Regions from separate parts of the Homo sapiens genome. Here region 1 is linked to region 2. Evidence: fine-mapped expression QTL. Tissue or cell type: whole blood. Region 2 holds a variant in brackets; the other region holds the start of a gene. All regions are shown on one strand. Distances are from middle to middle.

The links. PIP is the estimated chance that this variant, and not a neighbour inherited with it, causes the effect.
Region 1: it holds the start of STX16, and the variant in region 2 is fine-mapped to the expression of STX16 in whole blood (TOPMed, PIP above 0.99).

Annotation. Positions count from the first base shown.
Region 1 is chr20:58,647,651-58,655,828 of GRCh38, forward strand. It overlaps STX16 (syntaxin 16), which reads left to right and starts at 3,633. Exons shown (of 9, transcript NM_001001433.3): 1 at 3,633-4,488. The coding sequence starts at 4,357. STX16-NPEPL1 (STX16-NPEPL1 readthrough (NMD candidate)) reads left to right here and starts at 3,603. Exons shown (of 23, transcript NR_037945.1): 1 at 3,603-4,488. It overlaps LOC107985410 (a long non-coding RNA gene), which reads right to left and starts at 1,985. Exons shown (of 3, transcript XR_005647058.2): 1 at 1,339-1,985. RefSeq lists silencers at 1-137, 2,536-2,895 and enhancers at 825-1,362, 4,392-4,661, 4,499-5,002.
Region 2 is chr20:58,671,459-58,679,636 of GRCh38, forward strand. It overlaps STX16 (syntaxin 16), which reads left to right. Exons shown (of 9, transcript NM_001001433.3): 8 at 2,173-2,253; 9 at 4,729-8,068. The coding sequence ends at 4,833. It overlaps STX16-NPEPL1 (STX16-NPEPL1 readthrough (NMD candidate)), which reads left to right. Exons shown (of 23, transcript NR_037945.1): 8 at 2,173-2,253. Among named protein-coding and RNA genes, the nearest start is that of NPEPL1, 17 kb to the right of the region's middle. RefSeq lists enhancers at 4,369-4,894, 4,895-5,419. The variant T/C (reference allele first, on the strand shown) is at 4,270.

The DNA.
Region 1 (8,178 bases), 24 kb before region 2:
CATATTGCCCATTTGTGGCGCACTTACTCTATGCTGAGGTTGTATAAGGGCTTACATGAGCCCTATCTCATTTAAATTGTTTTCACCAAAGGGTGTGTGTCCCACTGCTGACCTGTTGAGCTAACCATCCCCTCTCAGTACTTGAAAACCTGCACCTGCCCAAGCCATGGCCTGGCTTCAATGGGGCTTCCTCCTGCACTGAATGAGATGACAAGAAAACAATGAAACACTTGTCCCCAAAAGTGACTTATTGGATTCGTTGGCAGAATGTTAGAAAGTGGGTATGAAGCCCAAGAAACAGGACACGGAGCCTCACCAAGCCCGAGGAGTATTACCGAATCCTAGCCCAGGCCAAGAATGAGTCACAATGAAAGCTTTTAAAATGTAAAACCATCAACCTAGATTTCAATTCCAAGGAAACACATACTTGGCCATGGGGGAATGCTTTAAAAAAAAAAAAAAATCAAGCTTAAGTCACTTGACAGGAAAATAAAACAGCCAAGGAACATTCAAATATAATGATTTACATCCTTCCCCAACTCCCTTCCAGTGTGGGTCAGGGCGAACATGGACCATGGACGTGACTGGAGCCAGGGGTGCATGCCCTCTCTGGGCTCCCTCTTGGTTAACACTATTTCAGGCACACAATCCCATACCTAAACACAGCCTGCTTAGAGCTGCACCGTGCTGCCTTTGGGGCCTGGTCAGAGCTGCACGGTGCTGCCTTTGGGGCCTGGTCAGAGCTGCACGGTGCTGCCTTTGGGGCCTGGTCAGAGCTGCACGGTGCTGCCTTTGGGGCCTGGTCAGAGCTGCACGGTGCTGCCTTTGGGGCCTGGTCAGAGCTGCACGGTGCTGCCTTTGGGGCCTGGTCAGAGCTGCACGGTGCTGCCTTTGGGGCCTGGTCAGAGCTGCACCGTGCTGCCTTTGGGGCCTGGTCAGAGCTGCACGGTGCTGCCTTTGGGGCCTGGTCAGAGCTGCACGGTGCTGCCTTTGGGCTGCTATGCCAACTTCTTGGATTTTCCTGACCTCCCCGCTGTTAGGCTCTTGGGTTGCTTGGGGTGGCTGTTTTGGGAATACCAGGATTTTTCTTCCATTATTTGTGTGCAAGCAGTGTTCATTTCGCTCAAAGAAATGGAAGCTTGATTGATCTCCTAAATGTAAGAATGAGATTGTCCTGTAATAAATATTTAAGACTGACCAGGAAAGGCGACCACCATCTGCTGAAACACAAGACCAGGAATTACTTTGCTAAGCTTCCTGAACGGAGGGAATGAATGAATAACCATCCTATATAATATTTGCTCAGCACCTGGTAGTTTACAAAGAGTTTTCACTTACCTTATTTGATCTTCACAATAACCCCAGAGAAGTAGACAGGGCGCGGATTACGAGGATTACGAAAAACCCACATTTTTTTCTTTTTTTCTTAACAGATAAGGGCTCTAAAGGCTTAAAGTCACTCGAGGGAGGTCAGAGAGTTTGGGGACTAAATCTCGAGTCTCTCATTAATTCATGCACATATTTAAAAAATATTTATCCGGAGCCTGTTCCAAGCCAGATGAGATGGCAGTGGGTACAAAGATGAATAAAACACTGTCCCTGCGTAGGAAGAAGATCACGTTCTAGCCTGGGGGAGAGCGCCAGGAAAAGTAAACAGGTCCCCCCCTGCTTTGTGAGGTGATGAGTGCTGGGGAGATAGGAAGAGAGTGGGGACCATGTTTCTAATCTGATTCTCCTACCGACGACCAGCTCAGTTGTTATTTACAAATACCTGTCCCCTAAAGGGGGGAGCGGGGTTGGGGGGGCTTGGCCGTGCTGCTGGGGTCAGAGCTCGCAGGGGGGTTCTGCCGCAGTGTGGGGACAAACTCTCCCTTATTGGGCAAATATTTCCCGGGGCGCTACGCTAAGCACACGGGCTCCCCGAATTTCCCTCCCCAGGGCCTCTCTGTCTTTGGATGGCCTGTCAGCAAGTCCCTGCAGCCTCCAGCCCGGCCCGCGCGGCGACCCAGTCCCCTGTCGCCCGAATCTTCCACCGCTGCGAAGCGTCCCCGGGCGAGCGCCCTGCTCTCCGCGCTGCGCGGAAGCCAGAGCCGGTCCTCACAGTGAACTCGCCCAGCCCTGCTCGCGGCTCTCTCGATTTTATGTGGGTTTCGTTGGATGCATTTTGTTATTTGCCTCAATGGATGTTTCACATTAATTTTTAGTTGCACAACGAACGCGCGGGAACATTCTCCGTGAGAGAAAAAGCACGGGTGGGGGGCGGTTACCGGTGCTTCCCCCGGTCGCCTGGGGGTCCCGCACGCGCCCCGCGGGTGCCGCTGTCTGGCTGGGGTCCCTGGGTGAGCCGCGGGCACCGGCTTCGCGTCTCCCCGGGCGCGACTCCGCTTTGCAAGCGCTCAGCACACGGGAAACCCTCGGAAAACACACACGTGTGTAAAGTTTGTTCCACGCAGAAACAAAGGACGCGTGGGGGCCGCTTCTGGGGCCTCGGTCCTTTGTTGGAACCCCGCACCGCAGCCCGGCCCGCAGCCTCGCCCCGCAAGGGGAAGCCGGCCCTGCACAGGCCCGGGGCCCGGAAGGCGCCGCCGCACAGCTCTGCGCCCCCGACCCGCTCCGGCCGCGCGCTGGGCCAGGCCCTTGGCCTCAAGCCTCCCGGGCGGCTCCGGGCCGGACCCGGGTCTCCGTCGCGGGACGCCAGCCTGTTTGTGGGTGCCGTGCTCGGGCCCGGGCGGCCCCTGCCCGACGCGGCCCCACGGAGCCCCTGCACGAACCCCGCCGACCTGGCCCGGGGCGGCAAGTCGAGGTGCTTAGGGCGCCCTGGGCCCGGCCAACCGTGGAAAACCCGGCCCGGGGCACGGGGGGGCGCGGGGGTCGCAGGGCCAGGGCCCAGGCAGGGAACAGAGATTTTTTTCGCGGGGAGGGGGGTGGGAGGTGTCAAAGTTTTCGGGGAACTTTTCCACTTGAGATTCCACGACCCTGCAGTGCCCCCTACAGAAAGCGGCAGCTGGGGAGGGCGGGCGCCCCCGACGACCCCCGACTGCCAGCGGCGGCGCGGCCAGGCTGCCTGGAGTTCTTGTTCCTTTTTTTTTTTTTTTTTTCCTTTTATTTCCTCGTGGTTGTTTGTCGGATACATCTTTTTCCAGAGTGGGAAAAAAAAAAAAAAAAGCGAGCGCCGCCGCCTGCAGTAGAGCGTGCTCGGCCTGCAGAGGCAGTCGTCTCCAACTTTTCCTCTCCCGCTCCAACTCCCCGCGCCCAAAACTTCAGTTCTTGGGGAGCCCAAATTTGCCTGCCGCGCAACTTCCACTCTAATTCAGCGACCAAGGGCCCTGGCAGCGGTTTGCAGCCTGGGGGCCACGCTCCCCAGGCTCAGGCCTGCTCGTTGGCCTGCTCCTAGTGCCTGGACCCAGTTGGGGGAGGCGAAACAGGGCGCCCGAGGAGCACCCCGGGAGAGGGCGGAGCACTCCCGTGCCCCGGGGCAGGAGTGCAGGGAGCTCCCGCGCCCGGAACGTTGCGAGCAAGGCTTGCGAGCGTCGCAGGGGGGCACTCGCGAGGGACGGACAGGAAGAGGGCCAGGGGGGAACGCCAGAACCCGGGACCACAGCACGGAAACGGTCCGGGGCTGAGCTGCAGTCAGATCCGGGGATGGAGGGAGCCGGAGAAGAGGAGTGAGAAGGCCGGGGAGGCAGGCCCTGCTGTCTTCCTGCAGGCCGGCAGCCTGCTGGCAGTGGAGGACCAGGCCGTCCAGGAAAGGAAGGGGTCAGGAGGTCGGGCAGGGCCTCAGCAGGTTCAGACAAGTCCCCAGAAGGGAGCTGCAGGCGCCCTCGAGTCCAGGCCCCAAGCCTGGCTCCGGTTGTCCAAAGAGGGCCTAGGCCAGGCCTCTGGTGCGGAAACTGAGTCACAGCCAGACCTCAGGGCACGGCCTAGACGCTTACGAGCCAAAGTTAGGGGTAGAGAGCAGAGACCTCCGGGGGGTCTCAGGGAGTAGGGGGCTTCAGGGCCTCCCAGTCTAGAGCCGGATTGGCGAGTTAGACGCTTGTAGATCCAAGGTTGGATTGGGGTGGGGTCTCTGGGACGTTGGATCGCTACGCAAGGATTGGGGGGATTCAAGTGCTTAGAGATCGAAGTCTGCCCTGGGTAGGGGGAGTCAGACAATTGGAAAGCCTAGGTAGTTATTTGGGGAGGGGTCTCTACGCCTTGGCGAAGCGCACAGCTGCATCTTTTTGGCTTGAGGCCTGAGGCCTTGTCGAGAAGCTTCCGTGAAAGGGTGGGCCAGCCGGGCCACGAGAAAGAAAGTGAATAAATCAGGAATATAAGTGGGCGGGGGGCCCCTGAGAGGGGGGTCGCAAAGGGTGAGACATGGCCACCAGGCGTTTAACCGACGCTTTCTTGTTGTTGCGGAATAATTCCATCCAAAACCGGCAGCTGTTAGCCGAGCAAGTGAGTAGTCACATCACCTCCAGCCCTCTGCATTCACGTAGCATTGCTGCGGTGAGTCTCCTGGCGGCCTCTCCGACACACGGACCGTGTGCACTGCGGCTCTGCCTGTTTGTCTGTCTCTGTCTGTCTCTCTGTTTAAAAAGAGAAGATAAGAATAATAAGACTAAGAATAATAAGATCTCTTGGCTAGAGTCAGGGGGCATCTGTAGCCCTGGATGAGGAAGAAGCGGTGCTGTGAGGCCGCAGCTCCACCTCTGCCCGGTCTTCTCCTCACTTCCGCAGCACCCCCCCCCCCGCACCCCCCGCCTTGGCGTCACTGCGCTACAGGCCGCCTGTAATTTACATATGTTTTAACGCTAACATTGGGAAGCATTGGGCCTTTCTGAAGCCTTTTTGTTTCGTTTTGTTTGAAGCTCCCCTCCCCCCAGTAATGAGCCTCAGTTTGGTCCTAAGGGCTGGGTCGCCGGATCGTAGACCCAAATCCTTGCAAAATGAACGACTCCCTCCCCTCAAAGAGGAGGGAGTTGTGTTGTTGTTTTGTTTTGTTTTGTTTTTCCGCCCGTTTTCTTTTAACGGCCCCGCAGCCCTCTGTGTGGCCTTGTTCCCTGTGAATAATTGCCTCACTGTTCTTCCTGGGGGCTTGCGTTTGTGAGACTCAAGGTGCTAGCCTCTTCACTTTCCATTTCCCAGACAGGAAATTAAGCTTTCCTCTCCATTCGAACTTTTTAAAAAAAGCCTGAGGAGGTATATGTGAAAATTAACCCCGTAAAATAGCACTTTTTTTTTTTAATTAACCACAACCTTTAGTTAGCCTAGCAGTAGCGTTTTTTAAGGGTGGTCCTGGAAAAATTACTGTTTGGGGTTTGTTTTTAATGGGGGCTACTTTTCCCTTTCTGAGCCTCAGTTTACTGCTCTGTTAAATAAGGGGCGAGTCTGGATGATCTATACCAGACAGTGATCGTTAGCTCTGTAATGTCTTCAATTGAAAAGTGAAGTTATGAAACTGGCTGTAGTTCAGGCTACCTGCTGTAGGCAGACTAGGTTGGAATAGAAGCAGCGTTGGAACAGGCGGGAAATAGCCATCCCAGGACCACATTCTTGGGGGTTATACTTGATATTAGGCAATTTTGGAACATTCATTTCACCTCTTAGGGACTGTATTGCCAGTTTATTTTTTTCTTTATGGCTTTATCTAAATGCTTCAGGAAAATTTTGCCATATGTCATGATTATCATGTCTACAAAGACAGTTTCTCCTTTTTGTAAGTCACAGGTGGAGAATGTCTTTGGCCATATAACTGATAGAAAAGTCATTTTAAGCCGTGTGAGCGGTTTCAGGAATAAAAGCATGTAAACTCAGGTCAAACAGCCTAGAACTAGGGACAGAGTGTGTGTGAGATTTCAGTTAATTAAGAAGTTGAAGGGTTTTTTTTACATTTATAAACGGAAAGGAATTACATTATATTGAAATAAATGTAAAGATGTCTGGTAGCATAGAAACAGGCTAATTCTAGCGCTAATTTTGAAGAAGAAATAATCCAAGAAATCGAGTAGAAATTGGATGAATTCAATTCCTTAATGGAACTTCAGTAATGTTAAATAAGAACTGCATGTTCCTTAAATGACTTGATTTTGTGCTGCCTCAAAAACTACTGAAACTCATATTAAGATTTCTAAGGTATCAGTTTTAATTGAAAAACATATTGTTTATTTTTCAATTTTTAATCATTAAGGTTCAAAATACCCTGAACCTTTGGGTAACATGAGGGTTTTTTTTTTTTTCCCGATTAAGTCAGACAGTTTAAAAACCTAGTATCTGAGACGGGAAGCTTTTTAAAAGTGCATCTCTGAATCAGACCACTTTAGAAAATTATTTTCTAAGTTAGGCAATTTTAAAAAATATTTAAGCTAAGCAGAATAATTAAAAATGGATAGTTAACGTATACAGTTTGGAAAAATAGATATGTCAGGGTATATACAGATACATTTAGCTAACTCACAGTTTTTTGAAAATAGATTTCTAAACCCAACTAAAAATACATTTCTAAGAACGTTAAAAAATGTTTTCTAAATGTCATACCATTGAAAATGTTAATATTTATATTAGTCTGACCATTTAAAATCTTTCTCAGATCATTGAAAGCAGTCATATCATTTAAAATATCCTTATAGTCAATCCATACTATCTCAAAAATAGGTTTTGCAGTCTAACAAACATAGTTTGCCTGAATTCAAATTTAAAAATAAAACACAGATTTATATATTTTAATTGTGTTAAAAAATGGCATGTCATAAATTTCTGAAGTATTTAGGGTTGAAGTGTTACATCTTCACTTTGCTTACAGGTGATTCGTAACAAAATCTATTCTGCACACAGTACGGCGAAATGCTAACAAGACTAAATAGAGGTTATGATTTTTTCAACTTTTCTGGAAGTTGGAAAAGCTTTATAAACATTTTGAAGCAAAAGCCATGTTTAACACAATTTGTAAAATCTATTGAGTAACTCTTAGCAATGCTTTTCACTGCATATCTAGCTCACAAAAAATTTAAAGCCTTGTTTCTGACTTGTAAATTTCAAAGCCATGTAGCAAACCAAACAAAATCGTATCTGTCAAATTTTGAATATGGACTAGGTATTAGGTGACATTAAGGAATTAATTATAATACATTACATTTGCTAATTTTATTAGAGATGCCTACTGAAATGTTTAGTGGTGAAATGTCAAGGCATCTTACCTAAGTCCTTAAACCCCTCCAAAAATAGAGGAAGCAAATAAGGCAAATTGTTACTCATTGTTAAGTCTAGTGATGAGTATGTGTGCGACATTTTACCATTTTGTAGGCTTTTCTGCATGTTTGAAAATTTTTAAATAGAAACTTAAAGTAAGTATATTTGTTATAGTAAAGTAAAACAGTTAAAAAGAGGCAATTTGTAAATACATGTCTAACACTCAGGCAATTTGAAAGGAAGAAATTAAACCTAAGTTTAACTTAATTTAAAAAATAATAACCTGGAATTTTAAGTTTCCAATTAGAAGAAAAAGCTGTAGACTTTGATCTTGATGCATTTGATACCAACTAAAAATACACCTAAAATAACAGACTTTTTAAAAAAAAAATTGTAATCCTGAATTTTGACATCTTATTTCAGGAAAAAGCTGCAGAAATTAATTGCAGAGTAGTGTGTATCATACACCTCAAAGCAAAGCACACCTAAAGCCATGCCATTCAAAAAATTTAAACATGCATTTTTTGCATCCTAGTTTGAGGGAAAAAACTAGAATTTGGTTGTTGTAGTGGGGTTATTGTGTGTCCCTGTGCGTGCATACAGGGTTTTGCAGCATTCAGGCAAATATGTCAAATAAACAGGAATTTAAGGAGGATACGCAGTGACCAGATAAACACAAAGCCTCAAGGGCCAGAAGGAACCTAAAGGTCATTTGGCCTAATGTCCCCATTTGTGATAACCCCTCATGCCTATCTTATTTGGCCATGGTGTATGACAATGATGGAAAATGCCAGCAGCTCCATGATTTTTACCACTAAAAAGTCTTTGCCTGTTAATCCCAACTATTTGTGTCCTGGGGTCCTGCTTTTAGTTCTGTTCCTTCGGGTCTTCCTTCTGTCTGGTAACCCTGCAGCCTTGTTACCCAGAATTCTTTCCAGGCCTAGCATTCCCGGCTCAGAGTGGTTATGCTTTTTTCCTATAAATGATGTTTAGTTTTTCTGTATCCTTTTT
Region 2 (8,178 bases):
TGTGTGTGTGTGTGTATATTAATATTAATCAAATATTAAATTTGATTAATTTTAAAATAATAGGACTAGTGTTGAAACCTCAGTGTTTACATTTTTTACTGAAGTCTCCTGGGTGCTAATTATCAGAGGAGTGTGGTGCTTTGAGAAAAGCCCTGGGGGGTTGGAATGTTGGAACCCTGGCTCTTAGCAGTTTAACAGTTACATGATTCTCATTTAATCCCTCTGACTCTAGTGTTCTCATCTGTAAAATGGGACTAATAATCATAGTACCATCCTCATAGGATGCTTGTTAGGGATTAAATGAGAGGAATGCAATAATAATATGATATATGATAATACAGGTTGAACATTCCTAATCTGAAATCCAAAATGCTCCAAAATTTGAAACTTTTTTTTGAGTGCCAATATGACACTCAAAGGATATATATACATAGCAATCCTAATCAGAAAATATGAAGTTCAAAATGCTCCAGAATTCAAAACTTTTTGAGTGTTAACATGATGCCACAGGTGGAAAATCCCTACACAAGACCTCATGTGACAGGTTGCAGTCAAAACTTTGTTTTATGCACAAAACTAGTAAAAATATTGTGGCCGGGCACGGTGGCTCACATCTGTAATCCCAGCACTTTGGGGGGCTGAGGCACATGGATCACCTGAGGTCAGCAGTTCGAGACCAGCGCGGTCAACATGGTGAAACCCCGTCTCTGCTAAAAATACAAAAAAATTAGCTGGGCATGGTGGCAGGTGCCTGTAACAGCTACTCGGGAGGTTGAGGCAGGAGGATCGCTTGAACCTGGGAGGTAGAGGTTGCAGTGAGCCGAGATTGCACCATTGCACTCCAGCCTGGGCAACAAGAGTGAAACTCTGTCTCAAAAAATATATATATATATATTGTATAAAATTACTTTCAAGCTATGTATATGAAACATTAATGGTATATGAAACATAAAGGTATAAGAAACATTAATGAATTTTGTGTTTAGACTTGGGTCCCATCCAGAATATCTCATTATGTGTATGCAAATATTCCAAAATCTAAAAAAAAAATCCCAAATCCAAAACACTTCTAGTCTCAAGCTTTTCAGATAAGGGATACTCAGCCTGTATATGTGTGTATTTACAAATTATATACATAGGCTACTGTCATTCCCTATAAGAATATTAATAAATCTTTTTTTGATAAATGAAGTTCTAATATTCTCTTCCCATGCCTCGAGGGTACTCATGTGAGCACCCTACTCTAGAGACCTAGTTGACTCTGACCGAGCTCAGCAATGATTCTGACGCTATAGAAGATTTCCCTTCTAATTTTGGCAGGTTATTGTGTAATGGCAATTGGAACCACTAGCGTTCAAGTAGAATTAAATTGTTGTTCACCGTTAAAATCTGATTAGGGCATTTTATTATCTTGCCAGCAGGGATTTGGGTCCTGATCCCCCTGAAACCAACTGCAGAATGGAGTGTTCAGGCTCTGGAAGATCCAGTTACATTAATTACTCCAGTGGTTCCCAGTGAACTGCTATCTCTTCTAATCCAGCATGTTTCCAATAAAAGCTCTGTTCTTCCTCATAGCCCAGTGTCCCCGTCTTCCAATTTAATTGTTTAAGAGATTAAACAATTAAACATCTTCCCCTTGAGTCCAAATTTTTAATTTTAGGTGGTAGACTGGAGTTTACCATTTCCTGCTCTGACCCATAGAGATGTGGATCCACGTTTATAGACGTGATAGTCAATTTGCAGGTCTACTTATGACAGGGGCGAGCTTACCTGGTGTTCTCTGCTTACTTGAATCCAAGTACGTAGGCAGCAAATGGGCGCAGAGCTTCTGTGCTGCTCAGAGCCTCTGTCCACTGGACCATAGATTTCTTAGGGCCCCAGGAAGTCCGAATATGGCATTTCTATGGCAGCTGAAACCAATAAGGAAACCTCAGTCTGTCAGTACTTCTTTCTCGTGAGCTAGATGTGATGGCACTAACCAGCATTCTGCCATCGAGCTCCTGACACTGCTTGAGGGTGAACTCCAGAGCCCTCCGTGTGTACCTGCAGCACACAGGGAAGGAAAACATCATCTTATGGATGATGATGTCTGTAATTTGCATATCTCATTTTTGACGTTCAGTTTTCCCAGTTGCTATTGTTGATTGTCTGTAACTGTCATTTATTACCTAGGGTACAGTCCTTGACAGAATTGACTATAACGTTGAACAGTCCTGTATCAAAACTGAAGATGGTTTGAAACAGCTTCACAAGGTAATATGTCTTTCAAGACTTGGGAATCTTAGGAACTATTTTCAAATAATCAAGAATTGGTAAGAGGGTTCTTTTCCACCATAACGATCTTCAGCATTCTTGTGTTGTCCACTCTCAATACAGTAGTGTAAAAAGGGATTCATCATTTCATTTAAAGCCAATTGTGGGGGCTGTTGCCGTTTTATTGCAGTTAATGATTCCAGGTGTATCTCACACTTAAATCCAAAATTGCTAAGAACTCCTTTTTGTGACAGTAAATTCTAAAGAGATTGGAGTTCTTTCTTTTAGAAAATATTTCATTCTTTTCTAATGCTTCTTGTTTTAGGAAATCAATTGGGCATTTGCTAAAATATGTGTTGAAAATCTGTCTGCTTGTTGCCGTTGACTTGGGCCTCTCTTGTGATACATTCCTGATGAATTGCTGATGGAGAATCATTCTGCAGAAGATAAAAATCTAATCTTCTCTTTAATTACCACAGCATATCTGTATTACCTTGAGAAAAGAGAAGTTTGTTGAAGTGAGAGTAGTAATTCTTTTATTCTGTGCTAATAAGGTAGCTGTTTCAGGGATGTTTTTATGATATTCTCTTTTAAAAAAATAGATGGAAAGCATCTTAGGAATCTTATCGGTTATAAGAAACATGCATAAACGGCTGAGACTCTCATATATAATTGGTTACGTATTTTCTTTAAAAGGAATATAACAATACTTCACAAATTAAATAATATCCATTTCCTTGTATCTTTGAGACCCAGTGGAGTTTCTAGCCATATAATGAGTGTTTTGCCAATTCACTGTTGGACTACTCTACCATTTTTCTGAAATCAGTCGCTTCCTATACCAGAGATCGCCCCATTTAATAGCAGTATTGGGTTTACAAAAAGTCAGCCCTTGCACTAGTCTAACCAGAAGCCCTGAGCTGTCTTTTCAGGGGGCTTGTTGCCATGTGTAGGTGGATATGAGACTCCAGCCTGTGGTGGGAAGAGAAGTCTGACCTTGTCTATGCAGGGTTTTTTTAAGCATTTAGATTAATTTGGTTGCCAAGCCCTGTCTATTAAAAGTGAAAACTAACTTAAGTTTCTCACTCTGTAATACCCAGGTTTTGATGTGCTGCTGAATTATGCATTGGTTTTGAAGTTTCTTAAATAAAAACTAGTGAAATATGTTTTGTAATATAACACAGATAAAAGGAAAAGCTTTCTCTGCGGGAGTGAGCAAATCTAGTGGGAACTAAAAATTTTGTTTTAGGTTCTACTTTATAAATCATTTTGAGAGGTTTTACAGTATATTATTTAGTATTGGCTTCCCTGGTGTTCTGGGTTACTTATTAGAAAAGTCAGCGTGCTCCATCTTCCCTCCAGCCACAAGGCTGTAGGCAGCACGCGCGTGCTCGGCAGTCGGCTAGTCTAAGGGTGATTGAGCGTCGGGAGCTGCTCCCCATGACCGGACTCTCGGTGCTGTCCCCGTGCCTGATGTTTCCTCCTGGTGGATGAGGGGCTCCTCCAGGTGGGCGGGCAGGCTCACTTAGGAAACAAGCCCACCGCGGGGGATGGAGCAGGAGAGATTGCCATTCTCGCCAGGGCTGCCTTCCCGCTGTCTCCTCCTCCCTCCTGTGCCATAGCAAGGTCTGGAAGAGGCAGCGCATGCTCTCCCTGGACGTGCCTCCCGGCGCCCTCTGAACTCTGCTGTCCTCTGGCTCTCCTTTCTCAGTGCTCTGCGTCTTTCGCCAGCCAGGTGGGGCCCTTTGGCATTTCTCTAGCAGGCATGATGGAGTTCCCGCTCCTGCCGAGCTTCCAGGATGCGGTGTTAAGGTGAAGAGATGTGCAGGGTGCAGCCTCGTCCCCAGATTGAGCTTGGAGGGCTCCTTTGCTGTATCGTTAGCGGCACTGGGAGGACGCGCCTCAGAGGGATCTTTCTGCATATGACATCCATGGGGCACACGTGTCTGTTTTTATTTCAAAGGATGAGTTTTTGTTTCCAAATTTAGGGGAGGTCGAAATGGGGCCTCTTCCGGG[T/C]GTCTGTTGCCTACCTGCCAGGTACGGTCCTCCAGCCCGTTGTTTCCTTCCGCGGTGAAGGAACTGTGCATTCGCTCCAGGAACACGGACCGGGAACAGGCGACCCGTGCTGCAGGGGCACTTGCCACGGCCTGCAGGAGGAAAAGCCGGGAGAAGCAGGCCCAGCTGCACCCGGAAGCATGAGCTTTCACTTCCCTGTCAGGCTTTGTCTTAGTAGTAGGTTTCCAACAAATCCATTTCCACGTCCAGGGTAAATAAGCAGCACCAGGATCATGGGGCTCTTCCACTCCTGGTGATTGAATTCCGTGGGATTGATTGGAGGGATTACAATCATGTAGCCTGTAGCAGAGACCTCAGTCACTGTGCAGAGAGATCTGGAAGCCTCATTCTGGAAACGAGTGGGACTTGATTTGGGATTTTGGGGAAAATGACGGCCTTTTTTCCCTCCTCTTTTTGTAGGCAGAACAGTATCAAAAGAAGAATCGGAAGATGCTTGTGATTTTAATATTATTTGTCATCATCATTGTGCTCATTGTTGTCCTCGTTGGCGTGAAGTCTCGATAAGTGGCATTGGGTTTTCGTGTGTGCCGCGCGTGTGGATCTCCCGGGTGTGAGGGGCTTGGCCTGCGCCCCGCCAGCTGCCCGCAGAGGTGCAGCCTCGAGGAATCTGAGGGCGTCGGGGCAGCGAACCTTTGCATCCACGGACTCCTCCTTCCCTAGTCCTGCTCAAGCGGTCCGGGGAATGGGTTTTTGTTTTTCCTTCATTGTTGAGAATTTAAGGACCTTTGATACTGCTGCACAATAGAGATTGAGTTCTGGGATCAGTTATAATATATATTTTTTTTAGAAAGAGAAAATGAGCTGAGAGTTTACAGGCACTGCAGAAGCTGTTCAGTATTATATGTGTATATGCTATTTTTTTAGCAGCCATGTCTGAGCAGAATGTTAACATAATTTTTGGAAAAATTTTCTTTAAACCATCTGGTTTTTAAGAAATTTGGTACCAAAAATTGATGAGTAGAGGCAAAAATGCCCCTTCATCTTTCTCTATATATTTTCCAGTTGAAAACAAACTAAGAAGTCCTTTAAGAATTTATAATCCGTTCCCCATTAACTTAATTTAGCTTTTCCATCACTGTTAATGATCAGAGTAACAAAGTGTGAAAAATAAGAAACCATCATTGATGTTAATTAACACATTTAGATGGGCCAGTTAAAACAGCTTCATAAGTTTTAAATTAATTGTAAATGGAATATTCCTCATTTAAAATTTTTGCACTGCATTTTCTACTGTAAACCAAAAGAGGTTACTAAGCAAAACCACCTAAATTTAAGTTGGTGATTTAAATGAATCTCACATTAAAAGAAAGCTTGACAGTGTTATGAAAGCCACCAGACTCAGCCAGTGTGTCCCCATGGGTATCCCCAGCCATCCTTGCTCAATCCATTACTTATATACTAACTACATAATGACCTGTTCAAACCAGACTCTATTTAATGAACTGTGAATTTACACAGAGGCCATTTTAAATGGGTCACCCCATTTAGGATTAGTGGATCTCAAATTATTAACCAAACATCACTCCATTTCAAAGTAAAATATTCCACCAGCGATTTGATTTATTGGCTCTTCCATTGCCACTGAGCAATGCCCAGGAAGCAGGCACATTGCCAAGGACTGGGGGCATCTTGACTAGGAAGCTCCTCGTTTGTGTGAGCGTGGGTCAGACCGCCAAAGTAGGACTTCATCGTTTACCTACCTATTATCAATATGGTGCTTGAATATATTCCTATAACTGTAGAACAGTGTGGAAAGTGATGGTAACTTTGAAGTTGTTCATGTTTTATTGGCTTTGTTTTAATTGACACTAGTAGAGTTTTAATGGTCTTTGTGTAAATTTTAATGGCTTTTCCATTGTTTTTGCTTCTCTTAAAAAGTTTAAGAAGAATATGACCTCATTAAATGTGCTGTTTTATTTGGACCAGTCACACAAAATGTCTCTCTAGAGTTGACTTTAAAGTTGTTTACAGAAATTTAAACTCAATTCCAGAGATTGAAGTTGTCCAAACAGCTCATGGGCTTAGTGTCCAAACCCCTGCCCAGCCTTCCCTTTCCAAGTTGGTGCCACCTCCAGGTAGCCATTGGTGGTTTTCCTATTACTGATGTGGCTGTGGAATGATAAGGTCCTAGAGGGGCCCTGGCATTTCAGGAAGCGGACCTGGTATTCCCTGACAAACATTGCTTAGGAAAGAGGGCCGGAGAATAAGAAGCCAGCACCTCATCAGTCAGCCCTGCAATGTGAGACTTCCGTAGCTGTTGAGAGTCACTGCAGGTGTTCTTTCATCCCATCTGATTTTAACCCATGGTTGAGACGTTCCAAGTTAGATCTGCTGCTCTTAGGTGTGGGGCTGTCCACATTAGGGAACTTGCCTCAAAAACAGTCCACAGTGGCAATACCGGACTTCTGTTCAAGCTTTTTAAAGTGCTGAGCCTTACAAACCCCTGAAGGAAAGTGACCCTTTAAGAGAGGATCATCTTTTTTTATATTTATTTTCACCAAATAGGGTGATGAGGGTTGGTTTTTGTTCCCTCAACCCATTTGGGTAAAATAACGGATCTGATTAGAAACTGTTTTAAGGAGGGGCTGGGCTCGGTGGCTCACGCCTGTAATCCCAGACTTTGAGAGGCCAAGGCGGTCACGAGGTCAGGAGTTCGAGACCAGCCTAGCCAACATGGTGAAACCCCGTCTCTACAAAAAATACAAAAATTAGCCGGGTGGGACACGCCTGTAATCCCAGCTACTCAAGAGGCTGAGGCAGGAGAATAGCTTGAACCCGGGAGGCAGAGGTTGCAGTGAGCCGAGATCACACCACTGCACTCCAGCCTGGGTGACAGAGCGAGGCTCCGTCTCAAAAAAAAAAAAAAAAAATTGTTTTAGCGCTGGGTTTCCCAAGGTGGGAGAGACAGACCCAGCCTGGAGCTGGCCCCTGGCCTGTGTGCTGACTTCTTGGGGTCCTCAAACCACTGTATTTTTCTGTTGAGCCTGTACTTGGGGAGAGATCAGTAGCATTTGAGGAAGTAAGAGAAAAGAATCATGGTACCTCAGGGTTTCTTTCCCTTTACTCGCTGGCAGCCATTGTCTGTGGGCACCTCATGTTTTTCCACACTCTACTGGGCCGTGGAGGTAACGATCACCCAGGCCAGTCTCCTCTGCCTGGGATGCGCCCTCTGAGAGGAGGCCTAGCAGGGCAGGCTCCCTCTGGGCATCCCTGGATGCAGCCTCTGGACACATGCCTCCTTTAAAGTGTCCGGGTGCAGCTCAGGTTGAGTGGAGGTAGAAGGAGAAACAGACATGTTTACCACGCGTTTTCCAAAGCTCCTGATCTTTCCCAAGATTGTAACTGAAAACTGCTGTCTCTTGTTTTGTTCGTTTTGGGGGTGGTGGTGCTGGCTGGGCCATGCTTGTGAAGTGATGTGTGTCTCTGATTTAACGGATTCACTGTTTTCTCTGCTAATTGAGAGAGCGTTATTTACATTATTTATTTGTTTTGACACAAGTGCTTTCAGTGTTTTATCCTAGCTAATGGCTTCTTAAAGGTAATAAAACCCTTCCAACGTAATTGGTCAGATAAAACTTTTTTTCTTGTATGCTTAAATAAAGCAATTAGTGAAGCACTTCTATCCAAAATGACTTTTTTGTCCTTTTTTAAAACCAATTTACTGTTACTGGAAACTTTTTGTACAATAAAGCAATCACGCAGATTAAAGAACATCCTGCAATCCTAGTATTAATTTTAACAATGGGTTCATGTTTTCTTCCAGTGCATTTGTGTTAGGGGAGGGCTTGGCCAGTTTTGTGATCCTCTGGGCCCCTGACTCTGTTTTGTGCCTGAGGCCTTTGCCTCAGT